2 separate regions of the Homo sapiens genome follow, and region 2 is linked to region 1. The links come from fine-mapping of genetic effects on plasma protein levels. Region 1 holds a variant in brackets. A gene starts in the other region. All regions are shown on their forward strands.

Region 1 (6,876 bases):
ACACAGCCAGGGCCTTCTCACTATCTCAGGGCTGGTGCCCCAAACGCAAGGGCCTTACTGAGCGCCCCTAGAAAGAAACTGAATTTGCTTCACACACACTGGAGTCTCCCTCAAGGGGGAGAGGGAGGCAGAGACTCACCCGAGTAGAGAAGGAGGCCTGGACAGTGAAAGTCAGAGACCCGTAAGAGACGAGAGAAAGAGAGGAGGAAAGGGTGAGATGGAGGCAGAGGAGGGAGGAAGGAGCAGAGATGGGGAAAGGAAGCTGGGACAGGAGGACTGGGGGTGATGCCCCGGTGGCAGAGGAGCCACGAGGAGGCTGGAGATATCACAGAGGCAGGGATGGAGAAGCCGGGAGGCACAAGAGAAGGCACACCAGGGTGGAGGCCCAGAGGTCTGGGGGCTTCTGGAGAGGGAGGGCTGAGGGATTGGGGCAGGACTGAGGGGCAGCCAGGGCTCCTGCCATGATGGCAGTTACTCCACGAGGTCCCTCAACCCAGGCCAGCCCACCCCGCAAATTAACCCTCCTGCTCACCATCGGCTGAGTCGGGCCGGAAGGTGATCTTGATCTCGAACTTCCTGTAGGCATCCTTGATGGTGGGCAGCGGTAGGAAGGAGTAGGGGGTCTGCGTGAAGTAGGGCACCACCCGCTCTGCCAGCAGAGAGCACAGCTGAAGACCCTGCCAGTCAGGGAGTGGGCAGGGCACTGCCAATTCTTAGGGGTGGTGTCTTACCTGGCACCTGCAGGTGGGCAAAGGCTTTGACCTTGCCCTGGCGGTTAGTGGCGGTGCAGACGTAGGTACCTGCGTCCTGGGGTCGGACTGAGGGCAGCATCAGCATGTTGTTCTCCAGGCGGCTGTCAGGTGGCAGGCTGCCATCCAGCTGCAAATGCACTAGCACTGAGGGCCCTGGCCTTGGCCCACGGCTCCAGGGGCCCACCTCCCATCTGTGCCTCAGGCCCACCTTCCAACATTGAGCGTTTGCTCTTGGCCAAGCCTGTGCCACATCCTGGGGACACTGAGACGCTTCAGATCTGTTCCCAGCCCCCAAGTCATGCCCGCTGGTTCCCTCTCCAGCACTTACCTTGCTCCAGCTGATGTCAGGAGTGGGGTAGCCTGAGGCTATGCAGGGGAAGACAGCTGCAGAACCAGCAGGCACACGGACTTCTTGGGGCATTGAGATCTGGGGCAAGGCTGAGAGGCATGGAAGAGACATAGGCCATCAACATGACAGTCACAGATATGTGCCCAGCCTGCACCCTGATTCATTTCATCTTCACACCACCCCTTGAAGGAAGCCACTACATTCCATTTCACAGATGAGGAAATTATGGCTCAGAGGGGAAAAGCGGCTGTTTGCTCCTGGTCGGGCAGAGTCAGGGTTCAGGGCCAGATCCATTTCACTCCACAGCCTGAGACCTCTTCAACATGCCTGGGCAAAAAATTGTGCAGCCCTTTGGGGACCTGAGAAGTGCACACTAGGGGCAGTATAGGTAAGGAAGTTTGGAGGCAAGTCACAGGGCTTGGGGTAAAAAGGAATTGCCTTTAAAGAACACACAGTGTTTGTGTCTGCCCTGCATCTGTTGTCCTTGTTTTACTCTCTATTAGGTCTGTTTGTTGACTGGGTTATGTCTCTGCCCTCAGACTATGCTGCAGGTCTCTCCCAGCAGAGCAGGCACTCCCTGCAGATGAGGACAAGGTTTCTTTTTTCTTCTTGATGCTCTATGGCCTAGCTCTCTCCCTGTACATTCCAGGCTGCCCTGGGGGAATCTCACTTTTATCCCCTGCTGCTGCCACCTGTTATGAAACCTGCCCCTTAAACACACACAATGGAAAATGTCCCAAGTGAACAGAAAGGAAGAGCAGAGCGGGCAGGCAGAAGATGGCAGCAGGAGAAGCCCCTGCCCCACTCACTGTCCCCCAACAAAAGTCCCCACTGGCCTTCACCTTGCACAAGCAGCAGGACGTGGGATTGTGTGGTGCCAGCTGCGTTGGTGGCAGTGCAGCGATACTGTCCCGCATCAGCCAGCTCTACGTGGGCGATCCTGACGACACCTCCGCTCTGCACAATGCCTGGCCGCAGGTGCCCTCCAACTTTGCTCCATGTCACCTGAGGCTTGGGGTCACCCAGTGCCAGGCATTCGAACTCCACGGCGTGGCCAACCACCA[C/T]GGTCTGCACAGAGGTCCGGATGTTGATGAGCACCGAGGGCAGGGCTGGGGAGGAGGGAGGCAGAGGTCCAGTGAGATCAGTCACTGCAGGCCTGGCCCGAGGGAGGCCATAGACTGCCCAAGGAAAGGTGAGCACTGAAGCTCCAGCATTCATTCACTCCTCATTCACTTTTTCATGCATTCACTCACAAACACACTCACTTGTCAGGTCTTATGCATTTACTCACTCACGTGTCCACTTCTTTTTTTTTTTTAGACAAAGGGTCTTGGTTGTATTCACAGGTGTGATCACGGCTCACCACAGCCTAGAATTCATGCGCTCAAGCAATGCTCCCAGCTTAGCCTCCTGAGTAGGTGGGACTACAGGTGCGTTCCACCATGCCCGGTTCACACTGATTCAATCTTCATCGGTTCATCTGAGCACTCACACACTCCATCCATATCCTTCTTCCCTCCCTTGAAATATGTATCAAGCCCCTTTTACTCTATGCTAGACACAAGCAAGGCAAAATGGAATAATTCTCTTTATTCTGACACATTTAGGGGGATTCCTAGGGAACAGGGTCTGGGCCTTGTGCCTCTCTGCCTTTCTCATCTCTGTTCCCTGCTCTTAGCAGAGGCCTGAAGCCACCCTCCTACCTTGGATAACCAGCTGGGCACTGGCCTGGGCCTTCCCCCAAGGTCCATGGGCCTGGCATATATACGTCCCTTGGCAGCTCTGGTCCAAGTTCTGGATTCTATAAAGAAAAAATAATAAGACATCAGGGAGTTGAAAACAACTGATAGAATGCTTTGCAATTGGGCTGGGCGTGGTGGCTCACGCCTGTAATCCCAGCACTTTGGGAGGCTGAGGCAGGCGCATCACTTGAGATCAGGAGCTTGAGACCAGCCTGGCCAACATGGTGAAACCCTGTTTCTACTAAACATACAAAAATTAGCCAGGCGTGGTGGCACACGCCTGTAATCCCAGATACTTGGGAGACTGAGGCACGAGAAACGCTTGAACCCGGGAGGCGGAGGTTGCAGTAAGCCGAGATTGCGCCACTGCACTCCAGCGTGGGTGACAGAGTAAGATTCCATCTCAAAAAAAAAAAAAAAAAAAAGAATGCTTTGCAATTGTGTGGGCATTAAAAACTGATGTAGAACAGCACGCAGTGTTGCATTCTAGTTTCCCAATAACCACTAGAGGTAGGCAGGCAGGTTGGGGGGCACCACACTCATTTTAGACAAAGACCTTATGGTCTAGGGCTCAAGATTACACAGTTATCAAGTAGCAGAGCTGAGATCTGGGGTCATTTGTGTATTTCTGGCCCCAGGGCCTGTTCTCTTTCCTCCGCTAATAATAAATATGAATGGGCCACTGTTTACTGAAGGCCTTCCAAGCACCAAGCACTGTGCAAGTGCTTCAGACAATCTCCTTTCAGTCTTTTTTCTTTTTGAGATGGAGTTTTGCTCTTGTCACCCAGGTTGGAGTGCAATGGTGCGATCTTGGCTCACTGCAACTTCCGCCTCCTGGGTTCAAGTGATTCTCCTGCCTCAGCCTCCAGCGTAGTTGGGATTACAGGTGCCCACCACCACACCCAGTTAATTTTTTGTATTTTTAGTAGAGGCAGGGTTTCACCATGTTGGCCAGGCTGGTCTCAAACTCCTGACCTCAGGTGATCTGCCCGCCTCAGCCTCCCAAAGTGCTGGGATTACAGGCATGAGCCACCGTGCCTGGACCTCATTCAGTCTTATATAACCCACTGTACAGCTGAGAACACTGAGGCTCAGAGAGGTAAAGTGATGTGTCCAAGGACAGTGCTTCATGTTGCGCCCCCTGGGGCAGGTGCTTTAACTCTGCTCACTGTGAGCCCTGGGCTATGCTGCCCAAGTCCAGTCCTGCCCCCGGCCCCACTCACCGGAGCACCCCATCCTGCACGCTGTGACCCGGAGGCAGCTGACCCCCTTCCTTGAACCAACGGAGCTGGGTACCCCGGTCGCTGGGCACAGCACAGTGGAACTCAACGCTGGCCCCAATGCTCTTGGTCTCTAGCTGAGGCGTGACCTGCACGGTGGGCGTGGACCCTGCTGGGATGGAGGTGGCAGGGAGAGAGCCGGGAGGGCCTGCGGGGACATGTATGAGGTTCTGCAGGTATATGTGTGTGTGATGTCCCTGATGCCCCTCCAGGGACCCAGGAAACCCCCAGCCCAACATTCAAGGAATGTTCTCCTGATAGCCTCTCTGACCAGGGAAAAAAGACCGTTCAGTGGCAGATTCATTCATCTGCACACACAGCTGCCATTCCACCAACATGGATAAGGGCCTGTGGAGCGCTGGGCTCTGTTTCCACAGCTCCTCGCTTCTGGGTGGGGAGGGCAGGCCACGAAAAGAGTGGGAGGGACTCAATACTTTTTTTGAGACGGAGTCTCGCTCTGTTCCCAGGCTGGAGTGCAGTGGCACGATCTCAGCTCACTGCAACGTCCACCTCCCGGGTTCAAGCGATTCTCCTGCCTCAGCCTCCCGAGTAGCTGAGACTACAGGTGCGCCACCGTGCCTGGCTAATTTTTTTTTTTTTTTTGTATTTTAGTAGAGACGGGGTTTCACCATGTTGCCCAGGCTGGTCTCAAACTCCTGAGCTCAGGCAATCTGCCTGCCTCGGCCTCCCAAGGTGCTAGGATTACAGGCGTGAGCCACCGCGCCCGGCCATACTCAGACATTTTAAGGAAGGACAGCAAAGCCTATTCTGCCTGCAGTTTAAATAAGAGAATCCAGGGACTTGGCCATGGCAAAGACACCTACACATGCAGGGGACAGATGGGAGGCGGGGGCTGATGCATACTGTCCCCATTTACTAAGTGCCTACTGCGAGCCACAGTTTTACATCTGTGTTTACCTCTGTGTACCTTTCCAACTCAGCCTACATGGTTGGCATTGTTCTCTCCACTTTACAGATAAAGAAACTGAGGCTCAGGACGAGTGCAGTGGCTCACGCCGGTAATCCCAGCACTTTGGGAGGCTGAGGTGGGTGGATCACATGAGGTCAGGAGTTCGAGACCAGCCTGGCCAACATGGCGAATCCCCTTCTCTACTAAAAACACAAAAATTAGCCAAGCGTGGTGGCGCGTGCCTGTAGTGCCAGCTACTCGGGAGGCTGAGGCACGAGAAAGGCTTGAACTCGGGAGATGGAGGTTGCAGTGAACCGAGATCATGCCACTGCACTCCAGCCTGGGTGAAAGAGTGAGATTCTGTCTCAAAAAAAAAAAAAAAAAAAAAAAGAAAGAAACTGAGGCTCAAAAAGGTTCAGTGACTTGGCCAAGGTTGCACAGCCAGCAAATGGCCAAGCTGTGCTTTGAACCCAGGTCTGAGTCCACAGTCCAGGCTCTTGACCAGTGGGCTACATGCTGTGCTGCTTTAAGTTTGGGGCCCAAAAGCCCTCATTTGTATCATTGATGCAGGAGGCCATGGAAATGCTGGGCTCTCTGAAGATCCACTGAAGCCCTGGGCGTGCTGGGGTGGGTGCTCCTGTCACTCATTCACTGTTGTCCCTGTCAAGCATTTACCCAGCCCATCCTGGGCCTTGTTGCCCTCAATTAAGCCCAGGGCTGCTGAGATGCCTGGGTCCAGGCCCTGCCCTGAGCATTCTCACTGCCTGGCAGGGGAGGCAGGCTGGGGTGCTTATGTACACAGAATGGTTTCCTTTGGCAGTGCCAGGGCTGTGCCAAAGGTGGGGAGCAGCCGTGAGAGCTAGAGGAGCTGAGCACACATGATGGAGGGCTTCCTGGAGGTGGCAAGCCTGCCTCGGGCCCTGGAGAGTAGGGGAGATGAGGGCATTCCAGGTGGGGTTATGGAGGGAGGCCTTCCCACCCGAGTCTGCCTAGCTGGGTCATCAAAGGGCCAGGAGGAAAGGTGATCCCCTTCCACGCAGAGCCGGGGCTGCTTACCTTGGACGAGCAGCTGGGCAAAGGCCTCGGCTGAGCCCACCTTGTTGGTGACCCGGCAGCGGTAGCGGCCTGAGTCCTCAGGGGCTGCACGCTCAAAGTGCAGCAGCTCGTTCCTGGCGGTCGCCCTCCCAGGAAGGCTGCTGCCCACGCGGCTCCACTGGAAGGTGAGTGGGGGTGTCCCGTGAGCCAGGCACTGGAGCTGCACCGTCTCCCCTGCCTGCACCGAAGCGTGCTCTGGGACCGTGGTGGCATATGGTGGGCCTGAGTGGGGGGACACAGAGGTCAGGATTGGGGAGGGCAAAGGTCAGAATGGCAGCAGGTCGTTGGATCCAGTGTCCAGGGAAGCTGAATGGTGAGCCCAGAGGACTGGGGATAAGGAAAGCAAAGGTCCCAGGCCAGGGTGTGGGTGTCGGGCAGGGCAGGCTCCAGGACCCTGCAGCGCCTGGAGACCTCTGGATGGGGTTCCTGGGGTTCTGTGTGGGGTGGAGCCTAGTCGGGGGGCTCAGATCTCCATTTGGTGCAGACAAAGAAGGGATGAGGCCTTACTCTCCACGTGCAGGATGATGGTGGCCTCAGCGTGCCCAGCAGGGCTAGTGGCATTGCAGATGTACTGGCCCGAGTCCTGCTGGGCTACCCGGGGTATGATGAGTGTGTCACCTTCCAGCCGGTGCTGCCAGGGCAGTGGGGAACGCAGCTTGGACCAGTGGATGGTGGGCGCGGGGCTGCCTGTGGAGTCGAGTGGAAGATGACAGAAGTCACTGGGCTACCTCAGGGACCCGCAGAGGGT
Region 2 (4,709 bases), not on the chromosome of region 1:
GCAGGAGTCCATGCTCTCTGGCCTTCTGAGGAGTGGGCAGGCCTGAGTGAGGGTCACTGACCAGGCAGGGCCTCTGGGTATGACTGGAGCCCTGGTGGGTGGATGTCATCAGCATGGGTCCTGGGGAGGGACAGGCAAAGGGAGATAAGGGGAGTCCTGCCCCACCCCAGCTGCACCCAGACCGGGACCCTGGGAACCCAAGCCTGCACAGCCGCTTTGTGGAGCTGAGCGAGGCATACCGTGTGCTCAGCCGTGAGCAGAGCCGCCGCAGCTATGATGACCAGCTCCGCTCAGGTAGTCCCCCAAAGTCTCCACGAACCACAGTCCATGACAAGTCTGCCCACCAAACACACAGGTACAGTAATCCTGCCCTCAGCTTGCCCCACCCCCAGGTCTCTTGGGTAGTCTCATTTCCACAATGTCCCTTCCTCTGCCTCCCAGCAGCTCCTGGACACCCCCCAACGCACAGTACTGGTCCCAGTTTCACAGCGTGAGGCCACAGGGGCCCCAGTTGAGGCAGCAGCAACACAAACAAAACAAACAAGTGCTGGGGTACTGCCTCCTCCTCATGCTGGCGGGCATGGGCCTGCACTACATTGCCTTCAGGTGATGCCTGTTCTCCCCGGGGTGATGGGCAGAGGGCAGGAGGGTGGGTGAATTCCAGTGTGGTCAGCCAGTCCTCCACAGCACCTCGTGGCCCGTACTCTTGTGTCTCTCAAGCTAAGAGCTGCTTGAAGTTGGTCTCTGGAGCCTCTCCTTACTTATTAAAGGCAGCGCTGCACCAAGAGCTAACGTTGTCATTTACAGTTTTTCATATTTCGAATGTAAATCTTTCATGCTGGCTGCCAGGAAGGGATTGAGCCAAACAAAATCAAGCACAAGCAGCAAATGCAGCACAGCTCATTCATTTGGCAGTAGGCATCTCCCTGCCACTCTCACGCGTGCCACGGAGCTGATTCTCTTTATTCTCTTTTTTTCTTTTTTTTTTCTTTGAGATGGAGTCTCACTCTGTTGCCCAGGCTGCAGTGCAGTGGCGCAATCTCGGCTCACTGCAACCCCACCTCTGCCTCCCAGGTTCAAGCAATTCTTCTGTCTCAGCCTCCCGAGTAGCTGGGACTACAGGCGTCCACCACCACACCCGGCTAGTTGTTTTGTATTTTTAGTAGAGATGGGGTTTCACCATATTGGCCAGGCTGGTCTCAAACTCCTGACCTCAGGTGATCCACCCGCCTCAGCCTCCCAAAGTACTGGGATTACAGGTGAGAGCTACCGCGCCTGGCCACAAAGCCGATTTTCTATAGCAGATACCTAAAGGCCAGTGCCCACTGCTAGCAGCCTGCCTAGTTCAGTGATGGAGTTAGACGCATACCCTTTCTAGTCTTCTGGGAGGAGCACCCCCATGTCCACAGCTGCTGTCACACCTCAAAGTGACCAGGGACTTCGGATGCCATTGGACCCTAGACAAGCCAGGGCCACTCTGAGCCCTCCCTATCTATCACAGGAAGGGTTAGACTGAGGTTCCTAACCCTGTGTAAGGGTAAAAAGCTGTGAGGCCCCTAGAGTGGGGTGGAAGGGGGCAGGACTTCAGGGACAGCAGGAATTGGATTCCCAGGGTTAATTGTGACCCATTGCAGGAAGGTGAAGCAGATGCACCTTAACTTCATGGATGAAAAGGATCGGATCATCACAGCCTTCTACAACGAAGCCCGGGCACGGGCCAGGTCTGTCCCTGCTCTATTCTGCTCCCTGCTCCCTGTCCAGGAACCACACTTCGGGATCCCTATCCCAACCACCCAGGTGCCCTCTCCTCCAGGGCCAACAGAGGCATCCTTCAGCAGGAGCGACAACGGCTAGGGCAGCGGCAGCCGCCACCATCCGAGCCAACCCAAGGCCCCGAGATCGTGCCCCGGGGCGCCGGCCCCTGAGGGGCTCACCTGGATGGGGCCTGCAGTGCGTTCCCGCTTTGCTTCCTTCCCTGGACGGCCCGCTCCCCGAAACGCGCGCAATAAAGTGATTCGCAGAGCTCGTGTCCGGCTCCCTCCTTAAGGCCCGACGCCCCCGGCCCCGGCCTCGCCAAGGGGCAGCGCCCCGCCCTCCGGGTAGTGGCGGCGGCGACTGGGGAGCCCAGCCTCCTGGGCGGTGCGTCCCCTTTCCCCTGCCGCGGCGGGAGGCGGGAGGGGGTGTGTGGAGGAGGCGGGCCCCGCCGACGGCCTCGCCCCCCCACCCCGCCGCCCCGCCCCCGCCCCACGGGCCGGTGGGGAGCGCGTGTCTGGGTCACATGAGCCGCCTGCCCGCCAGCCCGGGCCCAGCCCCCCGCCGCCCCCGCCGTCCCCGCCGCCGCTGCCCGCCGCCACCGGCCGCCCGCCCGCCCGGCTCCTCCGGCCGCCTCCGCTGCGCTGCGCTGCGCTGCCTGCACCCAGGGCTCGGGAGGGGGCCGCGGAGGAGTCGCCCCCCGCGCCCGGCCCCCGCCCGCCGCGCCCGGGCCCGCGCCATGGGGCTCTGGCTGTCGCCGCCCCCCGCGCCGCCGGGCTAGGGCGATGCGGGCGCCCCCGGCGGGCGGCCCCGGCGGGCACCATGAGCCCTCTGCTCCGCCGCCTGCTGCTCGCCGCACTCCTGCAGCTGGCCCCCGCCCAGGTACGTGCGGCCCGACAGCGCGCCCGCCCGCCCGCCGTGCCCTCTCTCAAGGTTGGCGGAAGTGAGGAGGCGACCCGCGGCCTCGGCCGAGGGGATCTGCGGGGTCCGGCCTTGGACGCGGGCGTCTCGGGGGCCCGGCGCGTGCATCCCCTGGGAGGTGCCCCTCCCCGCTGGCCCGCCAGCCCCAGTCTGGGGCCACTCCTCCGCCCCACCCCGTCCCCTGGGCACCGCCGGGGGCGGGGCTCCCTCGGTGCCTGCAGGACCTGCTTCGGTGGGCACTGTGCGCGCTCCTGATCTGCATGCAGCCCCCAAACATGCTCGGCTCCGCGGCCTGGAGATTTGGCGCGGCCACCAGAGCACCTGTTGCGTTTTGGGCCAGGGCAGGTCCCGGGTGGCCAGGAGAGGACAGGTAAAGCTAGAGCAGTGGCCGCAGGAACAGAGCAATCTGGAAAGATGTCAGAGAGGTGGTGAAGCCTACTGATGCAAGGGCAAAGCCCCAGGGACGGTGACAGGGCCACACCCTCCTAAAGTGTACCTTGGGTACAGGTCTTTTCTCTCCCACAGGCCCCTGTCTCCCAGCCTGATGCCCCTGGCCACCAGAGGAAAGGTAATACTTACAAAAACTCGGCACTAGCCAGCACTAAGAGGGTTTGTCATGGGCCCTGATTCCAGGTGTCCATCATCTTGTGTAACTCCCCTAGAAGATTCAAACTATTATTCTACCCATTTCACAGAGGAGGAAATTGAGGCAGTGGGGTTACTGGGATCTGGATAAACAGGGCAGGGGAAGACAGGTTGTGAGGGCAGAGTGGGGAGGGCTAGTGGAGGGTGGCTGTGACTTGGGGACTGGGGAGGACAGATGCTGGGAGCAGCTGCAGGAAAACCAGTGAGGACTTAACCCCTACCGGTCTGCTCCCAGTGGTGTCATGGATAGATGTGTATACTCGCGCTACCTGCCAGCCCCGGGAGGTGGTGGTGCCCTTGACTGTGGAGCTCATGGGCACCGTGGCCAAACAGCTGGTGCCCAGCTGCGTGACTGTGCAGCGCTGTGGTGGCTGCTGCCCTGACGATGGCCTGGAGTGTGTGCCCACTGGGCAGCACCAAGTCCGGATGCAGGTACTGGGCAGGTGGGGCAACGGGCAGGGGATGCAGGTACTGGGCAGGTGGGGCAGCGGGCAGGGTGGATGCTGGCTGGCTCTGGGGCTGGGGCAGCCTGGAGACTGATGCACAGGAGACAGGGTTGGGGGGAGGGCTGGTGGCCAGCCTCCCGGCTGTTGGGTGAGCTTTTCTCCCTTCAGTCTTAGAGCATCCCCTTTCTCTCTCTCCCTCACTGTCCCCCCTGTTCTTCTCCTGAGCACAGATCCTCATGATCCGGTACCCGAGCAGTCAGCTGGGGGAGATGTCCCTGGAAGAACACAGCCAGTGTGAATGCAGGTGCCAGCCAGGCCCAACTTCTGAGCTCGCAGAGGCCAGGCTTGGGGGGTGCTGGGTATGGTGGTCCACAGAACTGGGGACCAGGTTCCTAAGAGTAGAACCAAGGGGCCGGGCGTGGTAGCTCACGCCTGTAATCCCAGCACTTTGGGAGGCCGAGGCGGGCGGATCATGAGGTCAGGAGATCGAGACCATCCTGGCTAACATGGTAAAAACCTGTCTCTACTAAAAAAATACAAAAAATTAGCCGGGCGTGGTGGCGGGCACCTGTAGTCCCAGCTACTCCGGAGGCTGAGGCAGGAGAATGGCATGAACCTGGGAGGCGTAGCTTGCAGTGAGCCAAGATCGTGCCACTGCATTCCAGCCTGGGCGACAGAGCAAGACTCTGCCACAAAAAAAAAAAAAAAAAAAAAAAAAAAAGAGTAGAGCCAAGGGTAGGCCTTGGATCTGGGGCAACAAAGTAGGATGCTTGGGCCGGGGGTAGTGGCTCACACCTATAATCCCAGCACTTTGGGAGGCCCAGGCAGGCAGATCACCTGAGGTAAGGCGTTTGAGACCAGCCTGGCCAACATGGTGAAACCCCATCTCTACTAAAAAAAAATACAAAAATTAGCCGCGCATGGTGGCAGGTGCCTGTAATCCCA

Alleles and levels. Alleles are on the strand shown, and positions count from the first base shown. The strength of an association depends on the size of the effect and on how common the allele is.
As copies of T replace C in region 1, the plasma level of the protein whose gene starts at base 2,325 in region 2 goes up (moderate association).

What was found. A credible set is the group of variants that fine-mapping cannot tell apart. PIP is the chance, under the fine-mapping model, that this variant and not a neighbour inherited with it causes the effect. Protein levels are from antibody-based Olink assays in UK Biobank. Linkage for the fine-mapping came from a reference panel and not from the study's own genotypes, which makes the PIPs less certain.
Region 2: VEGFB starts here. The variant in region 1 is the best candidate, but not a certain one, in a credible set for the plasma level of the VEGFB protein (UK Biobank, PIP 0.61).

The regions. Positions count from the first base shown.
Region 1 is chr1:21,832,736-21,839,611 of GRCh38, forward strand. It overlaps HSPG2 (heparan sulfate proteoglycan 2), which reads right to left. Exons shown (of 97, transcript NM_005529.7): 73 at 6,636-6,815; 74 at 6,090-6,350; 75 at 4,067-4,271; 76 at 2,805-2,902; 77 at 1,944-2,210; 78 at 1,081-1,190; 79 at 732-879; 80 at 533-649. Among named protein-coding and RNA genes, the nearest start is that of LDLRAD2, 24 kb to the left of the region's middle. The variant C/T (reference allele first, on the strand shown) is at 2,166.
Region 2 is chr11:64,232,260-64,236,968 of GRCh38, forward strand. VEGFB (vascular endothelial growth factor B) reads left to right here and starts at 2,325. Exons shown (of 7, transcript NM_003377.5): 1 at 2,325-2,634; 2 at 3,199-3,241; 3 at 3,554-3,750; 4 at 3,995-4,068. The coding sequence starts at 2,575. DNAJC4 (DnaJ heat shock protein family (Hsp40) member C4) reads left to right here. Exons shown (of 6, transcript NM_005528.4): 3 at 171-355; 4 at 445-606; 5 at 1,635-1,721; 6 at 1,814-2,022. The coding sequence ends at 1,925. RefSeq lists silencers at 1,873-2,362, 2,583-2,952.